4 linked regions of the Homo sapiens genome follow. The protein of the gene in region 1 interacts with the protein of each later gene in a biochemical or structural test. Each region holds a gene or a part of one and is shown on either strand. Other genes may lie near its edges.

Region 1 (3,500 bases):
TTTTCTGCTGCTATTTTGCTTCCAGTGTGGGTGTTGCCTTTAATTTTTACATTTTTTTAATGAAATATTTCTAACGTACACTGAAGTAGAGAGAATAGTGTAATGACTCTCCAGGTACCTATTGTCTGCCTTCAACAACTATCATTTCATGGCCAATTTTGTTTAATGTATACCTCATACGTTTTACTACCTTTTTTACACTCTGGATTATTTTGAAGTAAATACCAGACTTCATCATCTCTTGTAAATATTTTACCATGTGTCTTTAAAAGATGGGTGTTTTTTTTTTCTTTCACATAACCACAGTGCTAATCCACTCCTCAATAATTAGGAATAATTCCTTAATATCATCAAATTTTCTCTTAATGTTCACAGTTCTCCAATTGTCTTTTGTTTGTTTAATACTCAGTTCAGTGCAGAGTTGTTACTTTTGTAAAATAAGATTAAAATGTCATAGCAGGCCAGGTGTGGTGGCTCATGCCTATAATCCTAGCACTTTGGGAGGCCGAGCAGGCAGATCACCTGAGGTCAGGAATTCGAGAACAGCCTGGCCAACATGGTGAAACCCTGTCTCTACTAGAAATACATAAATTAGCCGGGTGTGTTGGTGCACGCCTCAAGTCCCAGCTACTCGAGAGGCTAAGGCAAGAGAATCGCTTGAATCCAGGAGGCAGAGGTTGCAGTGAGCCGAGATCGCGCCACTGCACTCCAGCCTGGGCGACAGAGCAAGACTCTGTCTCAAAAAATAAATAAATAAATAAATAAAATGTCATAGCAGTGCCAAATAACTATAAAATTTTTTGAGGCCGGGTGCAGTGGGTCACGCCTGTAATCCTAACACTTTGGGAGGACAAGGTAGGCAGATCCCTTGAGCCCAGGAGTTCAAGACCAGCCTGGCCAACACTGCGAAACACTGCCTCGTGGTGGCGTGTGCCTGTAATCCCAGCCTCTCAGGAGGTTGAGGCATGAGAATCACTTGAAGTGGGGAGGTGGGAGGTGGAGGTTGCAGTGACCCAAGATCATGCCACTGCACTCCAGCCTGGGCGACAGAGGAGTGAGACTCTGTCAAAAAAATAAAAAAATTCATGGCATATTCATGCCATTAGATTTCATCACTTTAGTTAGAAGATAATAATAAGCTAAGCTTATTATAGCCTTTAGTTACTTGGGGACAACTACACTTCATTGAAAGTCTAAGGTACTAACATTGGTTAGTTCCCAGCACCCTCCTCTTTCTTACCCAGATTTCACAGTATTTGGTAAGTGTTTTTATAGATTAGAGTTGTGGAAGTTTATTTCTATGAAGATAGCATTTTTCTCTCTTTTTTAATCTGGAGAGTTTCTTGTGAAACTCTTGAATGCCTTTTATTTTGTCTTTTTTTTTTTTTTGAGACAAGAGTCTCACTCTGTCACCCAGGCTGGAGTGCAGTGGTGCAATCGCGGCTCACTGCAACCTCCACCTTCCAGGCTTCAAGCAATTCTTGTGTCTCAGTCTCCCGAGTAGGTGGGAGTACAGATGCCTGCCAGCACGCACAGCTAACTTTTGTGTTTTTAGTACAGACAGGGTTTTACCATGTTGGCCAGGCTGGTCTAGAACTCCTGACTTCAAGAGCTCCACCGCGCCTGGCCTACTTTGTCATATTTAATAAAGAATGTTTTACTTCAAAAAATTTATACATGTTGGAACTTTTGTGGTTTGCATTAAAAGACAAAGCAGAGGCTGGGCACAGTGGCTCACACCTGTAATCCCAGCACTTCGGGAGGTTGAGGCAGGAGGACTGCATGAACCCAGGAGTTCAAGATCAACCTGAGCAAGACAGACCCTATCTCTACTAAAGAAATATTCTAAAAATTAGCTGGGCATGGTGGCACACGCCTATAATCCTAGCTACTTGGAAGGCTGAGGCAAGAGGATTGATTGAGCCCAGAAGTTCAAGGTTGTAATGACCTGTGATAGCTCCAGCTTGGGTGACAGGGAGATTCCCGTCTTCTTAAAAAATTTTTTTCAGCCGGGCTTGGTAGCTCTGTAATCGCAGCACTTTGGGAGGCTGAGGCAGGTGGATCACTTGAGGCCAGGAGTTCGAGACCAGCCTGGCTAACTTGGCAAAACCCCGTCTCTACTAAAAATACAATAATTAGCTGGGCATGGTGGCACCCACCTGTAATCCCAGCTACTTTGGAGGCTGAGGCACGAAAATTGCTTGAACCTGGGATTTGGAGGTTGCAATGAACCAAGATCATACCACTGCGCTCCAGCCTAGGAGACAGTGAAACTCCACCTCAAAAAAAAAAAAAAATCTAATTTCTTACAGTTCTGTATTATTGATTTATTTTGTACTAGAGGTATTGCTTAACAAAATAGTTGCATTCTATTAAAATACGTCTTGAAGCAGGCCGGGTTCAGTGGCTCATGCCTATAATCCCAGCACTTCGGGAAGCCGAGGCGAGCAGATCACTTGAGGTCAGGAGTTCCAGACCATCCTGGCCAACATAGTGAAACCCCATCTCTACTAAAAATACAAAAATTAGCTGGGCGTGGTGGCTCACACCAAAAGTCCCAGCTCCTCGGGAGGCTGAGGCAGGAGAATCACTTGAACCCAGGAGGTAGAGGTTGCAGTGAGCCGAAAGTGCGCCACTGCGCTCCAGCCTGGGCGACAGACACTCTGTCTCAAAAACAAAAACAAACAAACAAAAAAATCTTGAAGCAAAATTACATTAACTGAATCCATAATAAAAATAAGTTTTCTTGCAAAATTATAAAACTATAAGTCAATCAATCTTTGTCATTTCTAAAGGTAGTAAAATCATTGTTGTGCCAATGTAGAGGCTTCTCATTTTAAGGTCGTTGAGAAAAGAAAACTTTTTGCTGCTTTATTTTCTTGAAAGTTACTCTGAAACAAAAGATACAGATTATAAACTCCATATTTGATGGAATTAGGTGACATATTTAATCCTTAACCTAATTTATTAATACAATGTGGTAAATGACTGCATGCCTGTGACCAGGGCAGCCAACCAGATTGGAGCAGGTTAAAGCTCCAATAAAGCTGTTCAGAAAGATAAATTGGTAAACCTAATGTAAATGTAAATGTATTAAGAGGTGATTTATAGGAGATGATGCAGGAGAATCGCTTGAACTTGGGAGGCAGAGGTTGCAGTGAGCCAAGATTGGGCCACTGCACTCCATCCTGGGCAACAGAGTGAGACTCTGTGTCAAAAAAATAAATAAAAAGAAGAGGTGATTTGGACAACTAGCAACAAGTTTAGGATAGAGTTGTCACTAGAAAGCTAAGCAAAGGAGAAAAAAATCCAAAAAATTGTGCAGCAAAGAAGTCATATTTTATGGCTCAACTCTGAATAGCACACTAATCTAACCAAAATTAAGGTTAAACTACACTGAAAGGATACAATGTGTGAGTATATATTGTGGGGGATAGAGAGGTAGGAGAGCTAAATTCTGCTGTCCCATAATAGAAGTCAGTGGATAATACCTAAAACTG
Region 2 (3,500 bases), on another chromosome or scaffold:
CATGGTGAAACCCTATCTCTACTAAACATACAAAAAAATTAGCTGGGTGTGGTGATGGGCACCTGTAATCCCAGCTACTCAGGAGGCTGAGGCAGGAGAAATGCTTGAACCCGAGAGGCGGAGGTTGCAGTGAGCCAAGATAGCACCACTGCACTCTAGCCTGGGCAACAGAGCGAGACTCTGTCTCAAAAAAAAAAAAAGTTCGGAGTTAAAAAGGATGTTCCAACCACCTCTCTTTCAGACTAAAAGGGGAGATGGCCAATCTCCAAGATCAGGAAACACCCCTGTCCCCTTAGAGAGTCACTCTGACAGTCCACCATAAAAAGGCCTCTGATCCCATCGGCCACCTCAGTGGCCTTTGGTTGCACAGTTAGAATTAAGACAGGAGCAGGCTCTGAAAGCAGATGGGTGATGGGGGTCACTGCTTGTCCTGTCCTGACCACTCTCTCCCTTTCCTAGAAGGCTGCAGATCCCTGGGCCAGTTGGAATTTCCTCTCCCGGAAGCTGGCCACCCAGCCTCACCCGCCCACCCACTCCTGGGGTGCCCTGTACCCAGTGTGCCACCTGCAGCAGAGCCCGTCCCCCATCTTCAGACACCCACCTCGGAGCCCCAGACAGTAGCCCGTGCGTGCCCTCAGAGCGCCAAACCTCCCAGCGGTTCTAAGTCAGGTCTGCGCACAGGCTCCAGCTGCAGGCACACTGCAAGGAGCAAGGCTGCCCGCAGGCCTAGCCACCCCAAGCAGCCACGTGTCCAGCGCCCACGCCCTCGCCGCCGCCGTCGCCGCCGCACTAATGGCTGGGTACCTGTTGGGGCTGCGTGTGAGAAGGCTGTGTATGTCTTGGTAAGTGCTAGCTCTTAGCTGATGACGAGAGGGAGGGAGGCAGTGGGGACACATGACCTGCAGTGAGGTAGGTGCTAGAAGCACCTGGTTCTAGCTACTCTGAGAGCTGACAAGGGACTCCAGTTTACTTGTACCCCAGGAACCAGTCATGCTGGCCCACCCAGCTTGCTTCCCTAGCCCCCTACTGATCCTGTACCAGACACCCCAGGGAGGTCAGGAGACACACAGTCATAGCTGGTGGCTGCCATCTCGGTGAGTGTCTTCCCCTCCCCTCCCTGCTCACTTTGTCCCTTACACCCTGGATTGTAAAGTGGAGGACTTTCAATGGAGAACTTTTCTGGATAAGTCTATATAGGGGGCGTTGGAATGGGCAGAGAAAATTAGTGACACAGAGAACATCTCGGATGATGAAAAGAGGCCAAGTGCGGTGGCTCACATCTGTAATCCCAGTACTTTAGGTGGTGGAAGTGGTAAGATCGCATGAGGCCAGGAGTTCAAGACGAGCCTGAGCAATATAGACCTCATCTCTACAAAGTAAAAACATTAGTTAGCCAGGCATGGTGGTGTGCACCAGGAGGCTGAAGTGGGAGGATTGCTTAGGTCCAGGAGTTCAAGGCTGCAGTGAGCTGATTGCACCACTGCACTCCAGTCTGGGTGACAGAGAGACCCTGGCTTTTAAAATTAATTAATTAAAAACAAAAAGAATATTAACTAAAATTTATTGAGGCTGGGCAAGGTGGCTCATGCATATAATCCCAGAGCTTTCAGAGGCTGATGCTAGAGGATTGTTTGAGCTCAGGAGTTCAAGACCAACCTGGTCGACATAGCAAGATCCTGTCTACAGAAAAAAAATTTTTTTAATTAGCCAGGCATGGTAGCATGCATCTGTAGTCCCAGCTACTTGAGAGTCTGAGGCAGGAGGATCACTTGAGTCCAGGAGGTTGAGGCTGCAGTGAACTATGGTTGCACCACTGCATTCCAGCCTGGGTGACAGAGTGAGACCCTGTCTCTAAAAATAAATAAATACATAAATACATAAAATTTATTGAGCACTTCTTAGATGCCAGAACTGAGCTAAGCATTTTGTAAGTATTATGCCCTTTAATCCTCACCACTACCCTATGTGGTATATATCCCATCTTCCTATAATTAATCCCATTTTACAGATGTGGAAGCTGAGGCTTAGCAATACTTTAAATAATTTGTCAAAGGCTGTGCCCCTTATAACAGTGGTTTAAGGGTTCAGACCGAGACTTGTTCCATTAGGAAGCATGAGCACTTACCCAGCACTGGGGGTCTTGGAGTGAGAGTCAGCTGTCGGGTATGGTGGTCAGAGCTCAGCCCCAGAAGCTTCAGGCCACTTTTCCACCCCTATTCCCTTTTCTCATCCTTTCTCCAACCATGAGAATTCCCCAGCCCCATCCAAAAAAGGATAGTGGTTTGACAAAACCAAGGTAGTGGTTTGACTATCTTGAGGAAATCGTGGAAAGGATGTCATTCCCTCTCTCTGTCCTTACTCTGAGTGTGGCTCTGCAAGCCTATTTGTGTCATTGGTTTGTTGCCTAGGATGAGCCGGAGCCAGCCATCCGAAAGAGCTACCAGGCGGTAGAGCGGCATGGGGAGACAATCCGAGTCCGGGACACCGTCCTTCTCAAATCAGGCCCACGAAAGACCTCCACACCTTATGTGGCCAAGATCTCTGCCCTCTGGGAGAACCCCGAGTCAGGTACCTCTCCCTCTGGCTGGGGACCCAAGGGGCAGCTGCCTTCAGCAGAACTGTAGTCCCCAGATTGGCCCCTGCCTGGAGTTTGACCTGGCGTGAGTCTCCCCGTGTTCCTGGCACAGAGTCTGCCTTCCACTCGGCTGGGGTCTCTCTGCTGCCGAGGGCTGTGGGTGACCTTGTGGCTTGGGTTGGATCAGCTCATTAACCTTTCCAGCCAGCAGAGCCTGGGCACCTGTCCCCCCACCTCACCTGTCAGTGCCTTCTCCCCCTTCTCCCTCCATGCCTAACAGCATTCCAGGCCTCTGAATGCTTGGCCTGGGGCAGGGGACATGGGTTGCCGGAGCCTGCAGGATTGAGGTTGGATGAACCTCCAGGGCAGCCAGCCAGCCTCTCTGCCTGTCTAAGTAACTCAGGTTGCCAGTTCAAGCCATAACCACTGTGTTGTCCTTCCAGGAGAGCTGATGATGAGCCTCCTGTGGTATTACAGACCTGAGCACTTACAGGGAGGCCGCAGTCCCAGCATGCACGAGGTGAGCTGCCTGGCAGATGGGTCAGGGAGGGCAGGAGAGACAGAGGGAAAGGTTATGGCACTAAGACGTGGTAGGGGGAGGGCAGCCATGGGCTGTAGTCAAATCCCTGCGCTTGTCACTTTGGACTCCAGAGAACCTGGGAAAGGGCCCAGGATTTATTCTCTTTTCCCAACACTGCCCCAATTCATGTTTCAAAGGGAATAATAACCTTTGTCTTAAAAAGAGGAACAGAAAGGGAACCCTTGAGGTAGCAGGTGCCAATGGGAGCAAGTGGATGTGTTCCCCTGGAAACAGGAAAGGTGAGGTGGAGCTGCATACCTGGTCACTTTTGGTATTTTCTGTAGTAGGGGAGGGGAGGGGAGGAAAGACTCCTCCTAACACCCCATAGGCTCTCCACCAAGCTGT
Region 3 (3,500 bases), on another chromosome or scaffold:
AAAAGAATATAAGCAAAAACTTCAAAGAACATGAAATGCAAATGGCTCTGAAACATAAAAATATGCTTAATCTAATTTATATTAAAATAAATGTAAAATAAAACTGCACTGAGATAATATTTTCCATCTAACATACCAATCAAAATCTGGAAGTTTGATAACACACAGCTGTCAAGGGTCAGGAGCAACCTTTGTGAAGGACAATTAGTATCAACCAAAACTACAAATGCAATCCCTCTTCTCAAAATTTACCCTACAGATGACTTATGTGTAGGGTTATTCACTAGAGCACTCACCATTATAGCAAAATACTAGAAACAACCTAAATCAATAGAGAAATGGTTAAATGAATTATGGCACATCCATAACACAGAATCATGCAACTGTTAAAAAAAAGAAAGAAAGAAAGAAAGAAAGAATGGGCCAGGCACGGTGTCTCACATCTGTAATCCCAGCACTTTGGTAGGCTGAGGTGGGCAGATTATCTGAGGTCAGGAGTTAGAGACCAGCCTGACCAACATGGCGAAACCTGTCTTTACTAAAAATACAAAAGTTAGCCAGGTACGGTGGCACATGCCTGTAATCCCAGCTACTTGGGAGGCTGTGGCAGGAGAATCACTTGAACCTGGGAGGCAGAGGTTGCAGTGTGCCAAGATCTCGCCATTTGCACTCCAGCCTGGGCGACAGAGTGAGACACCATCTCAAAAAAAAAAAAAAAAAGAATGAAGAAGTTTTATATACTAAAATGGAAAGGACTCCAAGAATCTAAGTATAAACAAACAACACAATCCAGAATGGTGTGAATGGTGAGAAAGGGGGAAAAAAACCAAGACTGCATATTTGTATTTGCTCATATTTTCCAAAAGAAACTCCAGAAGGATACGTAAGAAAAAACAAAAATGTTTATCTTTGTCATAAAAGGAAAGTGGTGGTCGGCCGGGCGCGGTGGCTCATGCCTGTAATCCCAGCACTTTGGCAGGCTGAGGAGGGAGGATCACTTGAGGTCAGGAGTTTGAGACCAGCCTGGCCAACAATGGTGAAACCCTGTCTCTACTAAAAATATAAAAATTAGCTAGGCTTGGTGGCATGCACCTGTAGTCCTGACTGCTCAGGAGGCTGAGGCACGAGAATTGCTTGAACCTAGGAGATGGAGGTTGCAGTGAGCAGAGATCGTGCCACTGCACTCTGGCCTGGGCGACACAGCAAGACTCCATCTCGGGTTGGAAAAAAAAAACAGTGGTGGGAGGGGGACTTATTGTTTACCTTTATATATTTTTAAATTTGTGGATGTCAATAATATTAACTCGAAAATTAAGTTAATTAAACTTACTACAAATACTTGTTACAAGCAATGCAGGATTTAAAAAAAAAGAAGCACGACGTTTTCTTCACATATACTCAAAGCAATTTCCCTGCAGAGAATACTAAATGAGCTAAATTCTGTAATTGTCAAATGAAAGTGCTGTATCTAAAATAACAGACATGTCTAACCAATGTCATTCAGACTACAAACTCAATAGCTCAAAATATAAAATTACAAGCATATGATTTTCCTCCTAATTACCCACCTTGGCTTGCTTTTTGGCTTGTTTCTTTGCTTTTTTCTGTAAGTGCTTACTTGTTCCAGAAGGAATATCACTTCTCTCTTTTATGTAACTGTCGTTATCTTTTTCTTCCTCACTATCTTGATCTTCATCCTCCACTGTCTTTTTCAGATTTTTATCATTTACACTTTTCTTACCACTCTTAAAATATAGATAACATAGGTCAAAAACAAAATTTTACAACTACCATTTGGTGAAAAAAAATCCACACTATGTAAATATTTTTCTACTTCTATTATGTATTAGCTTTTTTTTTCCACAATATTTGAAAATAGATGAGACAAAATTCGTTTATCTCATACACTAGAAAGCAATCTTCACATAATGAGAAAACAAGCAAACCAACAAAACAGCAAAAGGCAACATCACATGTAAGTGTAATAGAAATATAACGAAATTTATTAGATACATGCTGTGTCACACTGTAAATACGTCCATTTCCAAATACATTTTCTAAGTGACTTATGTAAGTCACCACGGTGTATTCTTTTTTATTCTTTTCTTTCTTTGCATGCATATGACAGTTTCAGAAAAACAGAAAATAAAATTTGGTGAGACTTTAATTGCCAAGTTAACAAGCCAAGGGTCTCATAATTCATATGAAGTTGAAGAATGATTTATCCAATACTCATAACATCTCTTCTTTTTTCCTACTACTATTTAAAAGGAACCAAATTAAAACAAAATAATACTCTTTAACATTTATGAACTTAGGTGTGCAAGGGATTCGTGATTAGTCTTAAATAACAAAAATAAGTATTAATTTTAATATAAGGAAAATACTTCACTGTATGGAAACCAATCAAACTAATTACTTGTACAGAATTCTGAATACATCATCTTTTTTTCCATCCTTGTTTTTAAAGTAGTTACCCTGTTCTTTATTCAAATCCTAAAATGCATTCTACCTCAAATTAAGAAAAATTTCTGCATGGGCTAGTAATATACAAACTTAAAAAGAGTAACAAGGCTTCCCCCCACAAAATCTTACAGGAAAAAAAATCTACTTGAATAAAATAAATTCAATAGTCTTACCTGATCATCTAAAACTGGGAGGGACAAATCAAGGAAAGATTCATGAACCAAGGAGACCTTAACCAATCAGAAAAGACAGTGTAAAAATGTAAATACTGTAAATGTTACATAGTAAGATCCTCCCTGCCCTGTGGGATGGGGAGTAGGGGATGGGTTTTAAAATAAACAAAGGCTTAAGAAAATTTGAAATGAAAAATTACACAACATTGAGGACTTTGGGTTGGGGGAAATAAATCAAACTGTTTAACGTCTTCAAGATTTAAGGAGTGCTGACATTTCCCACAAAGAACCATGCACATCTGAATAGCATCTGAATAGTTTAAAAAGATATCCTATGAAGGTAGAGATTTCTGCTTTTGAAATAAACAATTGATAAACTGTTGAATATTAGCAAATAAACCCAGTATACATGACATCTACTTACAGTTCTGCATTGATCACACATGATCATACTAGTTAGTTCACCACCAAAGATGCGGTCAACAAAACTTGGCATTGATTTTTTCTTCTCATAATCTATGGAGAAAAAAAAGTCTATCAATTACCAATTACCGTTATATAATTAATTAAACAAGAAAAGCTAAAACTACTTACCTATCTAACTCTAAAATTTTATTTTAAATTTCCTGTCCCACAGACTTCTTCCTCCATTCATAATCACCTTTTTTAAGCAATAGAAGTCAGTATTATATATTCCACCTCTGAGCATAACATAATTGAACACAATCGCCTTTTATGAATAAGACAAAAAAGTCCTTATCCAAGATCTAGTCAGTGGGAAGTAAACTGTGCAAGTCAGTGAGACTTCTATGTCTTTCTCTCTCTCTCCATTAGTATAAAATGAACAGCTCAGAGTAGGCT
Region 4 (3,500 bases), on another chromosome or scaffold:
AAATGAGTCCTAAAAAGATAAGTGACACTACACTGAATGTTAAAAAGAATAGATATAGGTGTCAAAAGTATTACTGTGGTGTGGCAAAATGATTATAAAAGATTGTGGAGAAGTCATAAAAATCTAGAAAGATTTTGCACTCAAATTGTTTTGTAAGTATCTAAGTTTCACTGTATTTTAAATAATCACAAAATGGAATTACAAACTGGAAATCTACTTATGGATGTTGGCAACTTTCCCATGAACAACAGCTTTATCTATAAAAAGAGGATGGCATACTGTCTAACAGGAGAGGGGAGATATTTTTGAATTGATATCCTGGAGCATGATGAAGGCTTTGGTCAATCAGGCAACAGGGCTGAGGAGTATGGACCCTGACAGGAGGGATTTTAATGGGAGTAAGTAGAGTTGCCAGATAAAATACAGCACATTCAGTTACATTTGAATTTCAGACAAACAAAAATAGTTTCTTAGCATAAAACATTTTTACTAAAAATATGGCCCATGCAAAATTTGTTTTGTATTTATGTGCTGAATTTGGCAGCACTAGGAATAAATAGATTTCTTTCTTTAAAAAAAAAAAAAAGCATCCTGACTTGAGACATCTGGGTGTCTGGCCCCTTTTAAGTTAGGAAATGTATCTTCCCACCACTGCTGACTTACCGGGCTTGGCAATTTCTTTCCGCTCTGTCTCCTGGAATTGGGTGTCTGGGATGACGGACTTCGTGGAGATGGATTCTCAGCCTTCCGTTTGGCTGCCATGGCCAACAACCAGTTTTTATTCTCTGGGGAACTATTCTCTTTGCCTACCATTTCAGACCCTTCTCCACAAGGTCTCAAAGGAAGAGGTAGCGTTCCACAGCTTTCTGAAGCATACGGACTGATAGGAGACGGAGGCTCTGAGATACTGGTACCAGCTCCTTCAATTTTGCTTGATTTGGTAGGACCTAGAGAGTCCTTACTAAGGTCTTCCTGGTTACCAGCAAGGCAGCACAGATCCAAATGAAGATTTTCAACTTGGCCATCAAGCTCAGTCACACAGTTACAACTCTTCACACACTTTTGTTTCACACTCTCCAGACAGCTTGAGTCTAGCCTCCTCTTTACTCTATTTCTAGACTCAGAGCAAGCCTCTGCTTGGGATGACTTCTGGCTCACAGGAATAAGGGCTTTTCTCGGAGACATGATCTTGGTCTCCGAAGCAGGTGGAGTGATGGGTGGTGATGAGGAAGGTGTTCGGGTCACCCAGTTTCTAATCGACATCTTGAAAGATGAAGGTGGCTTGGGAGAGACGGAGGAGACAGAGCCTCTTCTGTTGATGGGAGACCGGGCCTTGGCAGGAGAGGTTTTAATAGAGAACGTAGGAGTATTTGAAGGAAGAGGGAGGTCTCCAGCACAGCTTGGGGCACAAGCTGCGGATGACGGGGAAGAATTGGATGGATTGCACTTTGCCCTGGGGGCTTTGGCAGGAGTACTCTGGCTACTCGTTACTGTTACTGAAAAAGAGGAGAGGATCATGAAGATCAGAAGTGAAAGCCATACAAAGTCCCTAAATTCTCATCAAGAAAAATCATAGCTAACCTAATCATCTAAGGGTCAATTTGCCAGTAAGTAGGTATACATCACTTGATTCCAACCACACCCTTTTATCATTTTCCTTTCTCTTTTCCAAGTCACCAACCTCCCAACTATCCCATTATAAAATATATACTTGTAAAAATCGACAAAATACCGAAAAACATAAAGAGAAAAAATTTAAAGCACTTACGTAAACCATGTTTAGCATACTTTCTATATTTGTGCATGTGATACATACTATACATCTCAACTTTTTTCTTTACAAAAATGAGACTGATTTAAGGGGAAAGTGGCAGATAGGAGGCAGGACTAATTTGCCACTCAGACAGACAGAACAGCATGTGGAGACTCACATAGTGAACTTTGGCTCCAAGAACTATCACAGGAACATACCAGAAAAAACAAAAGAATTAACAGATCCTTTGAAAGAAGTGGCTTGCTGCTGCAAAATCCACAAGACAGCAGAAAAATTGAGTGCCCAAAGTGTGAGAGGGCTCCCGAAGCTGTGTGCTTGGTCGAAGAGGACAACCATTCCTGATAAGAGGAGAATCGGTCTTCAGTCAAGGGTATACGAGTAAATGTGCTCCCCTGCTAGAACCTCCAAACAAGCTCTCAAGGTCCAAAGTGTGAGAGGGTGGCTGGGTGTGGTGGCTCATGCCTGTAATCCCAGCACTATGGGAGGCCGAGGTGGGTGGATCACTTGAGGTCAGGAGTTCAACACTAGCCTGGCCAACATGGTGAAACCCTGTCTCTACTAAAAATACAAAAATTAGCCAGGCATGGTGGTGTGCACCTGTAGTCCCAGCTACTCAGGAGGCTGAGGCAGAAGAGTTGCTTGAACCTGGGAGGTGGAAGTTGCAGTGAGCCAAGATCGCATGCACTGCACTCCAGCCTGCCTGACAGCGAGACTCCGTTTCAAAACAAACAAACAAACAAACAAACAAACAAAAAACAGTGTGAGAGGGGTAAAGTCCACTTCTGCACACATCCTCACTGAGGATCCAGATCATGGGAGAAGGAGAACTGAAATGAATTTAGAGAGCCAAACAAAATATAAAAGTAGAAGCAGCAGCAGGAAGAGCCCTGTAGGCACTCCTGGTCCCCAGGGAAACCATTTCTGACTATCTCACAGGGGTCTTTGGAGAGGGCAGCCAATGGAATTGGGGAAGGACCATAGGGAGAAGGAGACTTTCAGCTGAACTTTGTAATGATTTCAACTGAGCGTGAATTTTCCTGGGCAGAATCTGCAGGGGGATGGGACAAATAGGAAGTGCAGATATGAGCACAGAAGCTGTGGCAGGCAGATGGACAAGGCCTAACAGCCCTGCTTGCTTTCTCGGCGGGGAGTTTTGTAGTCTAGGGCAAGATCTCCACCCTGTGCACTGGAGGCATGGATATAAATTTGGTTCTGTTGGCTGTTGGGGAAGCACTGCAGGAGTGAGACTGGCCTTGCTGGCTGTGGTCTGTCACTGCCGGCTTTCCCCTATTTCCCTGGTGATGTGTATGAAGCAGCAGAGGCAGCCATAATCTCCCTTAGAACGTAACTCCATTGGCCTGTTAACCACCACTCCCATCGCCCAGAGGCCACAGCAAGCCCTGCCCAAGGAGTCTGAGCTCAGACACACTATCCCTGCCCCCACCAGATGGTCTTTCTCTAACCGCCCTGGTAGCCGTAAACAAAAGACAAAAACTCGTGGGGCCCTGCTCATTGCCTGAGAAGCCCGAAAACCTATCCAGGAAACCGTAAGGCAAGCTTATATCCCCCGCTATACTACTGCAGTTGATACTCTCTTGAAAGTGCCACCTCCTGGCTGGAGGCCAACCAATTCAAGCCATTACAGCAATTCAACAGAACAACCCTGCTCCAAGAAAGCAGAAAATAACAGCTAATTCTACTGCCTGTAACATCTTGGCCAACCAGA

Evidence for each region.
Region 2: of the proteins of FBXO11 (region 1) and BAHD1, one has a biochemical effect on the other in vitro, tested with the Homo sapiens proteins (one study listed by BioGRID).
Region 3: the proteins of FBXO11 (region 1) and USP16 interact in a test that uses a peptide from one of them, tested with the Homo sapiens proteins (one study listed by BioGRID).
Region 4: of the proteins of FBXO11 (region 1) and DTL, one has a biochemical effect on the other in vitro, tested with the Homo sapiens proteins (one study listed by BioGRID).

The regions. Positions count from the first base shown.
Region 1 is NC_000002.12:47,826,499-47,829,998, reverse strand, and holds part of FBXO11 (F-box only protein 11), read left to right. Parts: intron 1-3,500. UniProt on the Homo sapiens protein: Substrate recognition component of a SCF (SKP1-CUL1-F-box protein) E3 ubiquitin-protein ligase complex which mediates the ubiquitination and subsequent proteasomal degradation of target proteins, such as DTL/CDT2, BCL6, SNAI1 and PRDM1/BLIMP1.
Region 2 is NC_000015.10:40,461,453-40,464,952, forward strand, and holds part of BAHD1 (bromo adjacent homology domain-containing 1 protein), read left to right. Parts: intron 1-459; coding exon 460-842; intron 843-2,408; coding exon 2,409-2,568; intron 2,569-3,018; coding exon 3,019-3,095; intron 3,096-3,500.
Region 3 is NC_000021.9:29,041,668-29,045,167, reverse strand, and holds part of USP16 (ubiquitin carboxyl-terminal hydrolase 16), read right to left. Parts: intron 3,156-3,500; coding exon 3,064-3,155; intron 2,697-3,063; coding exon 2,640-2,696; intron 1,746-2,639; coding exon 1,569-1,745; intron 1-1,568. UniProt on the Homo sapiens protein: Specifically deubiquitinates 'Lys-120' of histone H2A (H2AK119Ub), a specific tag for epigenetic transcriptional repression, thereby acting as a coactivator.
Region 4 is NC_000001.11:212,098,248-212,101,747, reverse strand, and holds part of DTL (denticleless protein homolog), read right to left. Parts: intron 1,497-3,500; coding exon 664-1,496; intron 1-663. UniProt on the Homo sapiens protein: Substrate-specific adapter of a DCX (DDB1-CUL4-X-box) E3 ubiquitin-protein ligase complex required for cell cycle control, DNA damage response and translesion DNA synthesis.